Homo sapiens: one gene and its partner. The protein of the gene in region 2 interacts with the protein of the main gene of each other region in a pairwise test. Each region holds a gene or a part of one and is shown on either strand. Other genes may lie near its edges. The genes, in order: VSTM1 and ADGRG3.

Region 1 (8,264 bases), on a different chromosome or scaffold from region 2:
GAGAGTCCAGGAGCAGCTGTTCCTGCCCTGTTTTCATAAGTCCTTGGAGATGCACTGATAGAATTGTTGCTTATGGCCAGGCATGGTGGCTTATGTAATCCCAGCACTTTGGGAGGCCAAAGTGGGCAGAACACTTGAGCTCTGGAGTTTGAGACCAGCCTAACCAACATGGTGAAACCTCATCTCTACTAGAAATATAAAAAATTAGCGGGGTGAGGTGGCGGGTGCTTGTAATCCCAGCTCCTTGGGAGGCTGAGGCAGGAGAATTGCTTGAACCCCAGAGGGGGAGGTTCCAAAGCCGAGATTGTACCACTGCACTCCAGCCTGGGAGACAGAGTGAGACTGTCTCAAAAAAAAAAAAATTGTTGCTTTTGAGGGGTTCTCTGATTCAGCTCCACCAGAAGCAGGCTCTTAGACAGCATTAGTGTGAAAGTGACGTTTTATTTTATTTATTATTTATTTAGTTTTGAGACAGAGTTTCGCTCTTGTTGCCCAGGCTGGAGTGCAATGGCGTGATCTTGGCTCACTGCAACCTCCGCCTACCAGGTTCAAGAGATTCTCCTGCCTCAGCCTCCCAAATAGCTGGGATTACAGGCATGCACCACCACACCCAGCTAATATTCTATTTTTAGTAGAGACGGGGTTTCTCCATGTTGGTCAGGCTGGTCTCGAACTCCTGACCTCAGGTGCTCTGCCTGCCTCGACCTCCCAAAGTGCTGGGATTACAGGTGTGAGCCACCACGCCTGGCTTGAAAATTACATTTTAGGGAGTGGGGAAGAAGGGCTGGGAGGAAAATAGATTAAACAAGTGTGGGATATCTGTGTCCCTCAGATGGTATCTTTGGCTCCATCCTGCAGAAAGCAGTGGAGACAGAGAAGGTCGAAGACCAGAGGCTAGGGAGCTGGGGTCCCCACAGCCGTCAGTGGCAGTTTGTCCCGGGCATGTAAATTCCAAGGCATTTGGAGTTCTCCCAGGCAGTCCCCCAAAGAAGAGATACAAATGTTCACTTTGGAAAGGGAAAGAAGCCACGATCTAGAATGCATAAAAATGGGAAAGGGATCTGGGGAACATGGGTTGAGGAACATTGACAGAATCTATTACAGAGAGAGATGGGTGTAGGTGGAATATTGGGTGAAAAAAAATCATCATTATACCTACAATCCCATTATCCGACACAATGAGTCAGTTTCTAGACTGAGCGCTTTAAAGCCAGGATTTTTCATCATTACCTAACTCTTCAAGTTAGATATTATTAGCTCTCTGCCCCCTCCTTATATTTAACCAAAAAATAACGTATTCCAGAAAGGGAAGGGAACATTTACAAAGTCAGGAGGTAGGAGACCCAGTACTAGAACTCAAATATGTCTTGTTTCAAACTCCCCACTCCTTTTGCTGCTCCCTGATGATCAGCTCAGAAAGAACCTTATTTCAGGGAGGGGGATAGATAGATAATTAGATGTGATAGATAATAGGCAAGTAGGCAGATAAATAGATAACTAGATATGATAGATTAGATAGATACATAGATGATAGGTAGATAAGTAGCTAGATACGATGGACAGATTAGATAGATAGACAGATGATAGGTAAGTAGGTAGATAGATAACTAGATACAACAGGTTAGATAAGTAAGTAGATAGATAACTAGATATGATAGATTAGATAGATAAATAGACGATAGGTAAGTAGGTAGATAGATACAGATAGATTAGCTAGCTAGCTAGATGATAGATAACTAGATATAATAGATAAGATAGATGATTAGATAGACAGATAATTAGATATGATTGATAGATACATTAGATAGATGATAGATTAGATAGATAGATGATAGGTAACTAGGTAGCTAGATAAAGCTAGCTAGATAGATAGATAGATATACAGATACACAGATAGATACATAGATACCTAGATAGGTGATAGAGTTGCAAGATAGAAAAATTAGATAAGTAGGTGGATAGATAGATAGATAACTAGATAGAATAGATTAAATAGATAATAGTAGGTGAATAGACAGATACATACAGATGATAGATGATAGATGATAGATAACTGGTTATGATTGATAGATACATTAGATAGATGATAGATTTGGTAACTAGATGATAGGTAAGTCGGTAGATAGATAAGTGATAATTAGATATGATAGGATGGATAGATTAGACAGACAGCAGGTAAGCAGGTGGATAGACAGATAAAGATAGATACATAGATGCCTAGATAAGTGATAGATTAACAAGATAGAAAAATTAGACAGACAGATAGTTAATTACATATGATAGGATAGATAGATTGGATAGGTGATAGGCAAGTAGGTAGATAGATAAATCATAATTAGATAGGACGGATAGATTGGATAGATGATAGGTAAGTAGGTACAGAGACAGATAAAGATAGATAGGTAGATAGATAATAGATACCTAGACAGATGGTAGATAGATTAGCGAGATAGATAAATTAGATAGGTAATTCTCTATATATAGATATGTAGAAATGCCAATGCAAACATAGCGAACCAAGTAGGGGAAGCGTCTGGATGGGAGACCCTCTGTTGGTGCAGAGGACCAGGCGTGTGAAGCATCTCAGACTTGGCTCTGTAATGTGACCACAGATCATTGCACACCTAGGAAAAATTCTCAGACTCAAAGCACACTAACAAAGATAGCGGGGGTCTTGGTGAAGCCCCTTTCTGGGGCCTCACTTCTATAGTTGCTCAACTTTTTTCCTTAATCACGTTTCTGCTACTTACTCCTTAAAGTCTCACGACTTGTGTTTCTTGAATCTAAAGTGCCAAGAAAAACAAAAAACGGGGGGGAACTGCATGGACTCTGTCGCCTAGCTTTAGTAACAGGTTGCTCTCTCTTCCTCAACGCTGTGAGCTTTGGACACAACCCTTGCTGTAATCCCAGGAGTCACACGGGAATGCATGCCCTTCACCAGTGGGAGGGAAATAATTGTACTACCTTGCAGGGTTGTTGTTAAGACTTTAAAACGCTATGATGTAGACTTGCATGGCAATATTGCTCAAGAACTAGTTTTTTTTGTTTTGTTTTGTTTTTGTTTTTTAATTGGTAGAAATTTTATCTCCTGAGAGGGATGCTTTTTTGAGTTGGAGTCTTGGTCAGTTGAGTGTATGATGCAGTGATGCGATCTCGGCTCACTGCAACCTCCGCCTCCCAGGTTCAAGCAATTCTCTTCTCTCAGCCTCCTGAGTAGCTGGGACTACAGGCGTGCGCCACCATGCCCAGCTTATTTTTTATATTTTCAGTAGAGACAGGGTTTCACCATGTTGGCCAGGCTGGTCTCGAACTCCAGACCTCAAGTGATCCACCTACTTCACTCTCCCAAAGTGCCAGGATTACAGGCGTGAGCCACCGTGCCCGGCCACTGGTCATTCTTTTCTACCCTGCTCTAACCCTGTTCTTATTAGGAATCCTCCCTGAATTCTCCCAGCTGATCCCTTGTTCTGTGTCTTGGGGAATCATGTCTCCTTCAGAGAGCCCCACCCCTCCCCACTCTAAACGCCTTCCATGCCCGTGTCACTGCTGTTCATTACCTGGCATCAACGAGCTCATTGAAGTGTGTTTGAAGTTGGCTGGGCGTGGTGGTCTGTACTCCCAGCTACCCTGGAGGCCGAGTGAGGAGGACCACTTGAGCCCAGGAATTCGAGTATGATCACACCACTGCACTCTAGCCTGGGCAACAATGGGAACCCATTGGCACATCTGGGATTGGCATCCTGAGCTCCCATCTGTGACCTCCCTCCTCTCCCCTCCTCTCCCCTCCATTGCCCTCACCCTCTCCCCATAATCTTCACATCCCGTCCTTTCACATCTCTCTCTCTCCTTTAAAAAAAGAAAAAGGAAATATGTTTGAAGTTAAGAGCTGAGATCATGTCTGTGTTAGCCAGGGTTTTCCAGAAAAACAGAACCAATAGAACATATAGATATAAGCTGGGTGTGGTGGCTCACGCCTGTAATCCCAGCACTTTGGGAGGCCGAGGCAGGCAGATTGCCTGAGGTCAGTAGTTCAAGACCAGCGTGGCCAACATGGCGAAACCCCGTCTCTACTAAAAATACAAAAATTAGCCGGGCGTGATGGTGGGCACCTGTAATCCCAGCTACTCAGGAGGCTAAGGCAGGAGAATTGCTTGAACCCGGGAGGCGGAGCTTGCAGTGAGCCAAGATTGCACTATTGCACTCCAGCCTGGACGATAAGAGTGAGACTTTGTCTCAAAAAAAAAAAAGAGAACATATACATGTATATACATATATGGAGAGAGAGATTGATTTTAATGGATTGGTTCACGTGATTGTGGGGAGCTGGCAAGTCTGAAATCTGCAGGGCAGGCAGGCAGGGGATCCAGGGGAGACTTGATATTGCAGCTTGAGTCTGGAGGCAGAATTCCTTCCACCTTGGGGGACCTCAGTCTTTTCTCTTAAAGTCTTAAAGTCTTCAACTGATTGGATGAGGCCCACCCCTATGACAGTGGGTCATCTGCTTTACTCAAAGTCTATTGGTCGAAATGTCCAGCTCCAAGGAAGTTCCAGCTCCAAGGTGGGAGATCCAGGCTTGGAAGCCAGGCCATCTGTCTGGCTTCTCTTAGCTTTTCTACTCACCCCATCAGTGGATTTCAGACAGTGATTACACAGACAGATGTGGTGGCTCACGCCTGTAATCCCAACTACTCAGGAGGCTGAGTCAGGAGAATTGTTTGAACCAGGGAGGTGGAGGTTGCAGTGAGCCAGGATCACACTCCAGCCTGGGTGACAGAACACGACTCCATCTCAAAAAAAAAAAAGTGTGTATATATATATATATATGTATATATATATATATATATATATATATATATACACATTTATATATACACACACATATATATACATTTATATATATATATACACACACACACACGTATATATATATATGGAGCACCTGGAACAGAGCTGGCTCACAATAAATGATCAATATCATTGCTATGCACCAAACATTCCCTGGGAATTTTTGGAATTTCCTATGCGCCAAGCACTGTTCCAGCCCTTTCTATAGGTACTGACCCACCATCCAATAAAGTAGCTACTGCTGCTATCCTCACTTTACAGATGGGGAAACAGAAGCTTGGAGAAGATTAAGGAAATTCCCCAAAGCAATAGGAAGTTCCAGCTCCGAGGTGGGAGATCCAGGCTTGGAAGCCAGGCCATCTGTCTGGCTTCTCTTAGCTTTTCGGCTCGCCCCTATCAGTGGATTTCAGGAGCCAGGCTGATTCCCTGACCTGCTCTTCCCCCTCCAGACACCAGAACCATCTTTGTCGCCATCTTCAGCTGCATCTCCATCCTTCTCCTCTTCCTCTCAGTCTTCATCATCTACAGATGCAGCCAGCACAGTGAGCTCAGAGAACGCAAAGGGAGAGAGGGGGAGTGAAGGATTTTCTCGGTAGGTAAATTCCTCCTGCATTTTTTGTAGGTTCATCATCTGAGGAATCCACCAAGAGGTAGATGCTTGGCATAGCTCATGCTCCACTTATTCCCATGTCATTCTCAAGGGAACCCATTGGCACATCCGGGATTGGCACCCTGAGCCCCCACCCCAGCCCATTCTGTGACCTTCCTCCTCTCCCTTCTTCTCCCTTCCTCTCCCCTCCATTGCCCTCACCCTCTCCCCGAAATCTTCACATCCCATCCTTTCACGTGTGTCTCTCTCTTTCAGAACCAGCCATTCCAAACTTCCGGAGCAGGAGGCTGCCGGTAAGGGACAGGGGAAGTTTAAGGGAATCACCGGATAGAAAGACTAAGTTCTGACTTCTGCAGCTGAGAACTGATTTTTTTTTTTCCTTTCTCACTCAGAGGCAGATTTATCCAATATGGAAAGGGTATCTCTCTCGGTGAGTCCTCCCGCTTAGGAGTCCCACAAGAGCTCCCTCACCACAATGGGCTGGTCGTGTGTGCCTCCTGGTTAAGCCCATACAGAAATGTATACTGTTTATCACGCATGTGGTCTTAGACAAGTCACGAAACTCCCCTAATGGGAACCAAAATCTCCATTTAAAAGGCTTATGCATGGGCCGGGCGCGGTGGCTCACGCCTGTAATCCCAGCACTTTGGGAGGCCGAGGCGGGCGGATCATGAGGTCAGGAGATCGAGACCATCCTGGTTAACATGGTGAAACCCCATCTCTACTAAAGATACAAAAAATTAGCTGGGCGTGGTAGTGGGCGCCTGTAATCCCAGCTACTCAGGAGGCTGAGCCAGGAGAATGGCTTGAACCCGGGAGGCGGAGGTTGCAGTGAGCCGAGATCACGCCACCGCACTCCAGCCTGGGCGACAGAGCCAGACTCTGTCCCAAAATAAATAAATAAATAAAAATTTAAAAAAAATGAAAAAAGGCTTACGCAGATCCATTGATGTCACAGGCATAAAGGGTTATAAAAACAGAAAAGAAAAAGAAATGCATCTGGTGTGACCGAGGACCTGGGTTTTAAATTAAATTTAATTGTAATTAACTTAAATGTCAATAGCCATGTGTGGCTAGTGGCTGCCATATTGAACACTCAGTTCTAATATTCATCTATTTTCTCCAAAGACGGCAGACCCCCAAGGAGTGACCTATGCTGAGCTAAGCACCAGCGCCCTGTCTGAGGCAGCTTCAGACACCACCCAGGAGCCCCCAGGATCTCATGAATATGCGGCACTGAAAGTGTAGCAAGAAGACAGCCCTGGCCACTAAAGGAGGGGGGATCGTGCTGGCCAAGGTTATCGGAAATCTGGAGATGCAGATACTGTGTTTCCTTGCTCTTCGTCCATATCAATAAAATTAAGTTTCTCGTCTTAAAAAGAAATCTGACTTATTTATGGATTATTCATGCCCAAGAACCCCACCATACTCTTTCTACCCCACATTTCCTCCTAGAACAATTCAAGGAAATAATAAATAATGATTGACCAGCTATCCAGGAAAGAATGTAAGAATTACTGAGCATCTCCAGGAAGCACAACAAGCAAAAAAGAAAACGGCCGGGCTCACGCCTGTCATCCCAGCACTTTGGGAGGCCGAGGTGGGTGGATCATCTGAGGTCAGAGTTCAAGACCAGCCTGACCAACATGGTGAAATCCCATCTCTACTAAAAATAAAAAATTAGTTGGACGTGGTGGCAGGCGCCTGTAATCCCCGCTACTTGGGAGACTGAGGCAGAAGAATCGCTTGAACCCAGGAGGCAGAGATTGCAGTGAGCTGAGATGGCGCCATTGAATTCCAGCCTGGGCAATGGAGTGAGACTCCATCTCAAAAAAAAAAAAAAAAAAAAACAAAAAACGCCCAGAGCTGCAAACTCCTAGACCAGAGGGCAGAAAACAAAAGGACCAGAGAGTAACACGTCCAGCTTTGTGGGCTGTAGGATCTCTGCTGAGACTACCCCACTCTGCTGTTGTACCATGAAAGCAGCCATCGCTGATATGTAAACAAGTAGGTGTGGCGGTGTTAGAATAAAACTTTATTTACAACTTCATGTTCTCACTCATGTAGGAGCTAAAAAAGTAGATCTCATGAAGGTAAAGAGAGAGTCAGTTATCAAAGGCTAGAAGGGGTGGGATAGTTAATGGGCACAAACACAGTTGGATAGAAGGAATAAGTTCAAGTGTTCAATAGCACAGAAGGGTGACTATAGTTAACAGCAATATATTGTATATTTCAAAATAGCTAGAAGAGAAGATTTGAAACATTCCCAACACAAACGATAAATGAGCCAGGTGCAGTGGCTCACTCCTGTAATCCCAACACTTTGAGAGGCCAAGATGGGTGGATCACCTGAGGTCAGGAGTTCAAGACCAGCCTGGCCAACAAGGTGAAACCCCATCTCCACTAAAAATACAAAAATTAGCTGGGTGTGGTGGCGCACACCTGTAATCCCAGCCACTTGGGAGGCTGAGGCAGAAGAATTGCTTGAACTCGGGAGGCAGAGGTTGCAGTGAGCCAAGATCACACCACTGTACTCCAGCCTGGGCGACAGAGAGAGACTCTGTCTCGAAAAGATAAAAAAAAAGATAAATGTTTGAGGTGGTGAATATCCTAAATACCCTAATTTGAGTATTATACATTCTGTGCATGTATCAAACTATCACATGTATGTCATAAATATGCATAAATATTATGTATCTATAGAAAGTTTTTTTTTTTTTGATGGAGTCTTGCTCTGTCGCCCAGGCGCCAGAGTGCAGTGGCGTGATCTCAGCTCGCTGCAACCTCTCCCCGCAGGTTCAAATGATTC
Region 2 (8,861 bases):
AGACCAGCAGCAGCAGCGTTGTTAGGAGCTTTTTGGAAACGCAGCCTCTGGGCCACCCGGGCCCTGCCACATCAGAATCTGCATTTTCACAAATGCCCAAGGGGTCACGTGCACATGATAGGATCAGGAGCCCTGGTCTAGGGGAAGGAAGCTCCAGGCAGAGGGAGAGGCAAGAACAAAGATCCTGAGGTTGGAACCGGTTGTGTGTAGGAAGGACAGTGAGGGAGAGCGTGGCCAGATGGCGGCGGGTCGGGGCGGAGAGGTGGGATCCCAGGGCAGGGTCATGATGGCTCTGGCTTGATGCCAACAGGGTCCCTTTCTGTGCATGTACCTGTGTGTGTACATTGAGGTGCACACACAGGCATGCACACCCCTCTGTTCCTGGCCGTGCAGAATGGAAGGGGGTTGTATGGCCAGGCCCAGGGGCTCTCATGGGGTTCAAGGCCAGCCTCCCATACAGGGTCACCCTAGAATGGGAGCTGGGAGTTGGTGGTGGGGAGATGTTACCACATTTCGGTTATTTAACATTCAAGCCTTCATTCCTGCCTGTGAGATGAGGGGACTCAGGATTGTAAGTGAGGCCCATACATTCACACAGACATTTACTAAGCTGTGGATACATCATAGTGCTATTAATTTGAGGGGTGCAAAATCTCACAGTGCTTAAGTGGGTGGACTTCAGAGCCTGTTCACCACAGTTTGAGCCCTGGCTCAGCCACGTCCCTTTACCTGAGCCTCCTGGGCCTCAGTTTCCTTGTTTACAAAAGAGAATAGTAATGAATAGGATGGGCCTAGGAAGTTTGTGACAGTGAGAGGCCACACGGGGACGCAGCACAGTGCCCGGCTCATAGGAGGTGCTCGCTGGGTCTCATGGGTGCCCGACAGCACGTGCTTGGCAAACACTATGGAGAGGTGGGGCAGACCCGAGTCACAATGGCTGGGGAGGGAGGAGGAGGGATGGGGTGGGGCTCCCCCACCTGCTGACCCCGTGCCCTCACTGCCCGCAGGCTTCCTCATCTTCATCTGGTACTGGTCCATGCGGCTGCAGGCCCGGGGTGGCCCCTCCCCTCTGAAGAGCAACTCAGACAGCGCCAGGCTCCCCATCAGCTCGGGCAGCACCTCGTCCAGCCGCATCTAGGCCTCCAGCCCACCTGCCCATGTGATGAAGCAGAGATTCGGCCTCGTCGCACACTGCCTGTGGCCCCCGAGCCCGGCCCAGCCCCAGGCCAGTCAGCCGCAGACTTTGGAAAGCCCAACGACCATGGAGAGATGGGCCGTTGCCATGGTGGACGGACTCCCGGGCTGGGCTTTTGAATTGGCCTTGGGGACTACTCGGCTCTCACTCAGCTCCCACGGGACTCAGAAGTGCGCCGCCATGCTGCCTAGGGTACTGTCCCCACATCTGTCCCAACCCAGCTGGAGGCCTGGTCTCTCCTTACAACCCCTGGGCCCAGCCCTCATTGCTGGGGGCCAGGCCTTGGATCTTGAGGGTCTGGCACATCCTTAATCCTGTGCCCCTGCCTGGGACAGAAATGTGGCTCCAGTTGCTCTGTCTCTCGTGGTCACCCTGAGGGCACTCTGCATCCTCTGTCATTTTAACCTCAGGTGGCACCCAGGGCGAATGGGGCCCAGGGCAGACCTTCAGGGCCAGAGCCCTGGCGGAGGAGAGGCCCTTTGCCAGGAGCACAGCAGCAGCTCGCCTACCTCTGAGCCCAGGCCCCCTCCCTCCCTCAGCCCCCCAGTCCTCCCTCCATCTTCCCTGGGGTTCTCCTCCTCTCCCAGGGCCTCCTTGCTCCTTCGTTCACAGCTGGGGGTCCCCGATTCCAATGCTGTTTTTTGGGGAGTGGTTTCCAGGAGCTGCCTGGTGTCTGCTGTAAATGTTTGTCTACTGCACAAGCCTCGGCCTGCCCCTGAGCCAGGCTCGGTACCGATGCGTGGGCTGGGCTAGGTCCCTCTGTCCATCTGGGCCTTTGTATGAGCTGCATTGCCCTTGCTCACCCTGACCAAGCACACGCCTCAGAGGGGCCCTCAGCCTCTCCTGAAGCCCTCTTGTGGCAAGAACTGTGGACCATGCCAGTCCCGTCTGGTTTCCATCCCACCACTCCAAGGACTGAGACTGACCTCCTCTGGTGACACTGGCCTAGGGCCTGACACTCTCCTAAGAGGTTCTCTCCAAGCCCCCAAATAGCTCCAGGCGCCCTCGGCCGCCCATCATGGTTAATTCTGTCCAACAAACACACACGGGTAGATTGCTGGCCTGTTGTAGGTGGTAGGGACACAGATGACCGACCTGGTCACTCCTCCTGCCAACATTCAGTCTGGTATGTGAGGCGTGCGTGAAGCAAGAACTCCTGGAGCTACAGGGACAGGGAGCCATCATTCCTGCCTGGGAATCCTGGAAGACTTCCTGCAGGAGTCAGCGTTCAATCTTGACCTTGAAGATGGGAAGGATGTTCTTTTTACGTACCAATTCTTTTGTCTTTTGATATTAAAAAGAAGTACATGTTCATTGTAGAGAATTTGGAAACTGTAGAAGAGAATCAAGAAGAAAAATAAAAATCAGCTGTTGTAATCACCTAGCAAACTGGCGTAAGCATTTTGGGTCATTTCCTTCTGAGCTTTTTCCTGTGCTTCTATTGAAAGAGTCACTGATACTAATACAAATACCTTGGGGCCAATCAGGAAACATGAAAGAGAGAAGAGGGCTGTGTGTGAAGAAAAAAAAAAAATCGACTGCTGGAAACCTCATCAACCAGGGCACAGGGGAAGATAAATGGCAACTTGGTGTCTGTGCTGGGGAGGCAATGGGGAGTGGTGGGGCCTGTGGCGAACTGGAGACTCCCAACCCCATGCTGAGAGCGTGGCTGCTCATCAGCTCCAGCTGGTCACTACCTTGCAGGGATGAGGGCCCATGTAGCCAGACCACCTGCCTTTTATGAGAAATGGGAAATCCAGACTGTGGTTTGACATCCCCTGATTTTAAAATTTTGGCGAATCCAAAACATTTTCTGGCCAAAGAGATTACAGTCAAAAGCTGCCTGGTCCTGGGATTTATGCAACCAGTTTACTGATCACTCTGCAGCAGGTGGGCTGCAAGAATTAAATCACTGGACTTCTCTCCCATCCCTGCCTTTAACCTTGTTCCACCAAATCAATCTCTCCTCCCGCTCCTAAGGCCCAGGTGAGGCAGATCACGCAGGTTCCCATCTTCCCTGTGATGAGGGCAGTCACAACGGATCATTGCTACTGTGTTCAGGTAAGAGGTCCCAGTGCAGCCAAAGTCCTCCCCAAGGCCCACAGTCCACTCTCTCCCTTCTGCAGGCTCCTCCCTCCTCCCCTGGCCACTCTAGGGGGATGCCCAGCAGGGGAAGAGGCTCAGAGTCTTGGATTGGACAAGGTGGGTGTGAGGCAGCTGGGTCTAGACTGGCAGTGCCCTCTGAGGGGCGTGAATGTGGGATCTTGGGACCTGCAGGGACCAAGAACCCCTGTGCCCTGCTGCTCTCCCAGCCCTCCCTCCACCCCCTCCACTCCCTCCACTGACCTCTGTCCCCACCTTTCTGCAGGTGGGGGGCTCCTCTTATGCCCCCAGCTCCAAAGGACAGAGGCCAAACCTTCCCAAGCCTCCCCTACCCCAGTGTCCGGATTGGGCAGCCCCGGGGGATCAAAGCCAGCTTCCCTCCTTACAGGCTTCTAGGTCTCCGTGAGGGGGGTCTCTCAGAGCCCCATGGCTGGGCTAGGTCCTGGGATGGGGGTTGAGGCAACTCCCCCCATCTTCCAGAATGGGGGGGAAATGACCCAGCCCCGTTCCTCCGCAATTCTCCTGCTTCTCAAACATTTTGTTTCTGCATCTGAGGCTGGCTCAGGTAGTGGGGAGGGGTCTTGGGTTGGGTCTCACCTTCTCAGGTAGGCCCTGCACAGGGCACCAACAGTTCCATGCTGATCCTTTTACCCCGATGGTTATTATCATGCACTTTCCCAGGCTGTGGGGCTTTGGACAGTGGGATCGCCCTTTCTGCCAGCATGTGGCCAGGCGTGCATCTGGAAACATCCCTTTAGCTTGGGAAATGGATTGGAGCAGCTGAGGGCTGAATGCTGGCTGGGTCTCGCTGGAGGACTTGAGGCCCTGCCCACTGGAGCCATTGGGAGAAGCTGGGGCAGGAGGCGGCAGGAAGGGACACTACTGTTTTGTTGGCCCTGGGGTTGGGGGGGGTCTCAGGGTTCTGTGAGTGGCTCCAGGCTAGTCCCTGGTCCCCAGGGGGCGTTTCAGGGAAGGGGCCTTAGGAAAAGGTGGCCCTCCTTCCAGCCCTGCCTGACCTTCCCCTGCACCTGCCCTCTGCCCACTTCCCAGGTGGGCTGGCTGCTCGGAATCTCAGTCTGCTCACCCCCAGGCGCTTCTTCACACACTGGTACCTGCGAGCCTCTCTGAGGGCCCAGGTGCCAGGATGGGGCTTCAGCGATGGGCCCAGCACATCCAAGTCCACTGCCCCACCTCACCCTCACCTGCAGCTGGGAGGGAGGTCTGCAGATCTTCCAGGAGAAGGCTGGCCAGGTGTGGAGCAGTGGCAGGCCCAGCCATTCATCTGCCTTCGCAGCCCTCCCTGCAGAGGAAGTTTCTGGGGCTCAGGAAGCCCTGGGCTCTGACCTGCTGCTCCATGCTGAATTCCCACCTGCTCCCACACCATGAGTGACCCTGACATCCCCTCCCTACCCCTTCCCAGACCCAGAGGGCTCAGCAGGAGACACTGAGTGGGAGGAGGAGGAAATGGAGGCCAGCAGGGGCTGAGCGGCTCCCCAGTTCAATCCCAAGGCTGAGTAGGGCTAGTGCCAGCCCCGTGGGCCAGAGGGGGATGCCAGCAACCACACACCTTGGTGGGATGCCCTTCACCTTCCAATTGCCAAGTGGCCATGGCCTCATGCACAGTGCATCCGTGGGGCCTCCAGAGTTGGCCCGAGTGGCTGGCGCCCTAATTCCTTTAGGCTGAAGCCCAGGAGTGTTTGCCACCCCCACCTCCCACCTGATCAGTGACCATTTGGGGTGTAAAGACAACAATTTCACAGCTCTGATGATCAGAAATGATGTAATGGCCACAGGCGGCTCCGCCTGCGTCATCCATGATTTCATCACACACCTCGGGAGGCTCAGGGTGACAGACAGTGCATGCAAGGTCACCCGGCCAGGAAGTGGCCAGGATGGATGTTAGCTCAGGCCTGACCAGCCCCCGGGGCCGCACTGCTGTCTTCCCGCTACCCTGCCTCTGGGTCCGTCCTGTTATCCAGGCTGGTGGGGGAAGCTCAGGCTGCAGGGCCAGCTCCTGCTCTCCTCCCACACCCTCCAGCCTGGTTCAAGCCATAGGCACCATCTGGGTCTTCGTCCTCATGCCCAGAGCCAGGCTCTGTGCCCAGCTTGTTGCAGGTCTCATCAAACCCTGACACAGCCTTAGGAGGCAGCCCCATTGCCATCTTCACTTTACAGAGGAGGAAACTGAGGCTCAGAGAGGCTCCCAGCTTGTGAGAGGAGGGGTCTGAGTAGGTGCGCCTGACTCCAAAGCCTGTGCTCACCACAGTTCCCAGGGATCCGCTCTGAGCCAGGCCCCTGTGGCCACCCAGCCCCTAGCCCCGTAGATCCCACCCCAGTGGGGCCCCGGGGGCACATACCTGGGTGGGCTCAGCAGCTCCCTCTGCAGGTGGACCCAGGGTGCGGTGAGACTGGGAGCACTGCCCAGTTCCCCACACTCACCTTTCACAACCCAACCAATGGCGCCATCGAGCAGGAAGGGTGAGAAAGAGGACACAGGAAGCCAGAGTGGTGGGGCTGCAGGGTGGGGGCAGGCCAGCTCAGCAGAGCCTGGGGCCAGAGGGCCAGACAGCCACAGAGCTCCTGGCGTGGGCAAGGCTGGCCAAGGATGGCGACGCCCAGGGGCCTGGGGGCCCTGCTCCTGCTCCTCCTGCTCCCGACCTCAGGTGAGTGGCTGGCACCTCATCCCCTCCTGCCACGCTGGGCCGACCCTGCCCTGCCGAGGGAGGGATCCAGGGACAGACGCAGGGACTGGAGAAGGTGAGGAGTTGGGGTGTCTGGGATGTGTCCTCCGATACCCCCCGTGGCCGCCTCAGCACCTTCTCTAGCCCTGTCCCTTTGGGTCAGTCCTGTCCTTCCACTAAACCTTGCTCAGGACTGGTCTCAGGTTCCCTTTGTTGCTCCACAGTGCCCTGGAGATAGGGGAGGTCGGAGGGTGCTCCCTGACTCCCCAACCTGGGCTGTGTCTCCCTGACAGGCCTGGCTCTGAGACAGGGGTTGGCCCCGGGCAGGCAATTCTCCAGCTGGCTTGTGAGATCCTGGGGACGGGATTCAGACACTCTGGAAGCTGAGGCCAGGAAGGTCTGTCACCTCGTTCTTCTGGACCTCTCCTCCCGCACATGTCACCCCACACCGGCTCCCTCTCCCAGTCTCAGCCACAACCTCTTGGTCCTCAGTGGCCTGAGCCAGGATCCACACTCCTCCCCGTCACTCTCCCGTCTCACACACAAACACATGGTGCGTCTCCAGAGGCCATGGAAGTGCCCGGGCCTTGCCTTTGCTGGCCTCTCTCCCAGGAAAGCTGTCCCCCTACCCCTTGCCCACTTAGCCAGCTCCATTTACCCTTCTTGGCCTCTGTGGCGTCTTAGCAACCCTCTCGGACAGAGGGAGGTGCTCCCCCGTTAGTGCTCCCTCCTCAGTGCTCCTGTCTCAGGGCCTTGCAGGCCACTCTCTTTTTGCTCCTGACTCGGTGAGGGGCCTGCATGTCCATCTCCCTGTGTGTCCAGCGTGTGGTCGCGTGACTTTGGCCACATAGATCAACTTATTTGGTCTTCAAATAACCCTCTTCTTTTCAAACATTGGAAGATTCAGTGGAGTGAATCAGTCCCTGGCTCAAAAAAGGGTGGGAGATGACAGCACTGTCCTCCTAGTGGCCCCGGGAGGCCCTGGTACAGAGCAGGCCACCAGGCAGCCCTTGATAGATGAATGAACGGAGCCACCGATGGCAGCTGTGACCAGGGCTCATGGGCGTCCTCAGGTCCCAGCTGTCATCGCTGGTTGGGCCTTCAAGCCTCCTCCAGGTGATGCTGTTTCCCCCATGGTGATGTGGGTGCTCTGGTTGGGGCAGAGCAGCAGCCATTTGATTGAGCAAGGAGCTCTGAGAGGTCTACACACAGGAAGGTCTGCACACTTCCTGTGTGGACAGTGATGTGTTAGTCTCCATTCTCCATTTGCGCATTCATTCATTCATTCATTCATTCAGGAAGCATCGATGGTGCCCTCTGCTCCTGCTGGTACCACTTGGCCCCTGCCCTCAAAAGGCTCACAGTCTGCAGGAGTGACACAGTGTGGTGGGGGCTCGCATGTGAGACCCAGCTGTTAGGGCTGAGCAAGGGGTGGATGCAATGGAGGGCCTGGCATGAAGGGACACGTGACAAAGGTGCGGGCAGGGCACGGGGAGCAAGGAGGGTGGTCACTGGGCAGGCTGGCACCTGGGGCAGCCTTCAGCACCGTGAGGTCTAAAGGGGCCAGGAGGGAGTGGCCCCCTGGGCTTCTACAGCCAGACTGTGGCTACAGGAGGGAAATGGCGGTGGTTTGCTCACGGTGAGCCAGCAGGGGCTGAAGGAGCCATGCGGGGTGGGGGCAAATGCCCACTCTGCCCTCCTCCTGCCCTCTGACCTCCAGTCCACTTTCCACTTGCTGACCCCCAAATGAGGCAGTCCATGGAGGCCAGGCTCTGGAGCATAGAGGGTCTGGAGAGGAGGGGAGTGCTATCCCACCCACAGGCCTAGCACAGGGTCTCCTTGTCTACATGAAATGCTTGCAGTGTCTTCAAAGAATAAACACAGAAAAGATATTTAATGATCCTGTCTGTGTAGGGTGCTTGCCAAGAGCTTCACTTACATGCCTGCGCTGAAATTCATGGCAATCCGGGAGGGAGGCCTGCACCTGGACCCATTCATGACAGCAGGGCCGGGATGGCAGAGAATGGCACCCGTCCTCAAGCTGACAATGTTATCTCCCCTCCTCTCCTGTCCTCTTCCTTCCCCTCTCAACCCCTCCTCCCCTCTCCTCTCTTCCCTCTCCCTGTTTCTGTCTTCTTCCTCCTCTCCCTCTTCTCCCCTTTTTTAAAAAGCCAACATAGATCATACTATATTCATGCTCATCTATCATTTTCATTTCCCATTAAACAATGCATCATAAATATCTTTATAAACTAACAGAAATTTACAGTTCCTTTATAAACTATCTAAAACGAATTATCACATATAGAGTCCATTATTACAAAATCCCCTCTAAAATGTTATTTTTTTACCCTGCTGTTACTCTTTATTCAGCCATTATTTTTATCATGTCTTTTTTGTCTTAATGATTAAAAATGAACAGTTTTTTAAAAAATGTGACAGTAATACTGGACATGATTTTTAAAAAATCAAATACCAGGGAGGGAAATAAAAAATGGAAAGCAGATGAGCCCCTGCCCGCCTCAGCCCCCAGCACCACCCATCGCAGAGGGAGCTCTCCTAACACTTCCTGGGGGTGGCAATCCGAAAAGTGACAATGCAGAGCCAAGACCCACTTCCCACCCTCAAAGGGAGAAGGATACAACAAAGCACTTCAGAGTAAAAGACATAAAAGTGGCCGCAGATATACAGGTAGATGCTCAAACTCCTTAAATGGAAATAAGATTCAATGTCATCCCTCAGACTAGCAAAAATCCAAAAGTTCAGTAAGCTATAGAATAATAGGCATGTGGATAGTCACTCTTATCCACTTTGAGTGAGAGTATAAATAGGTACACCATTTTCTGGAGGGAAATTCAATAATACCCGGCAGTTTTTTAAAG

Evidence for each region.
Region 1: the proteins of ADGRG3 (region 2) and VSTM1 interact in binary tests that used the Homo sapiens proteins (3 or more experiments, as listed by UniProt).

The regions. Positions count from the first base shown.
Region 1 is NC_000019.10:54,039,400-54,047,663, reverse strand, and holds the end of VSTM1 (V-set and transmembrane domain-containing protein 1 isoform 1 precursor), read left to right. Parts: intron 1-5,106; coding exon of another isoform or gene 5,107-5,174; intron 5,175-5,294; coding exon 5,295-5,387; coding exon of another isoform or gene 5,388-5,437; intron 5,438-5,467; coding exon 5,468-5,495; intron 5,496-5,710; coding exon 5,711-5,748; intron 5,749-5,847; coding exon 5,848-5,885; intron 5,886-6,583; coding exon 6,584-6,703; 3' UTR 6,704-6,839; downstream 6,840-8,264.
Region 2 is NC_000016.10:57,662,445-57,671,305, forward strand, and holds the start of ADGRG3 (adhesion G protein-coupled receptor G3 isoform 1 precursor), read left to right. Parts: upstream 1-5,861; 5' UTR 5,862-5,903; coding exon 5,904-5,961; intron 5,962-8,861. Other genes in the region: ADGRG1 (adhesion G-protein coupled receptor G1), read left to right, coding at 1,008-1,138. UniProt on the Homo sapiens protein: Adhesion G-protein coupled receptor (aGPCR) for glucocorticoid hormones such as cortisol, cortisone and 11-deoxycortisol.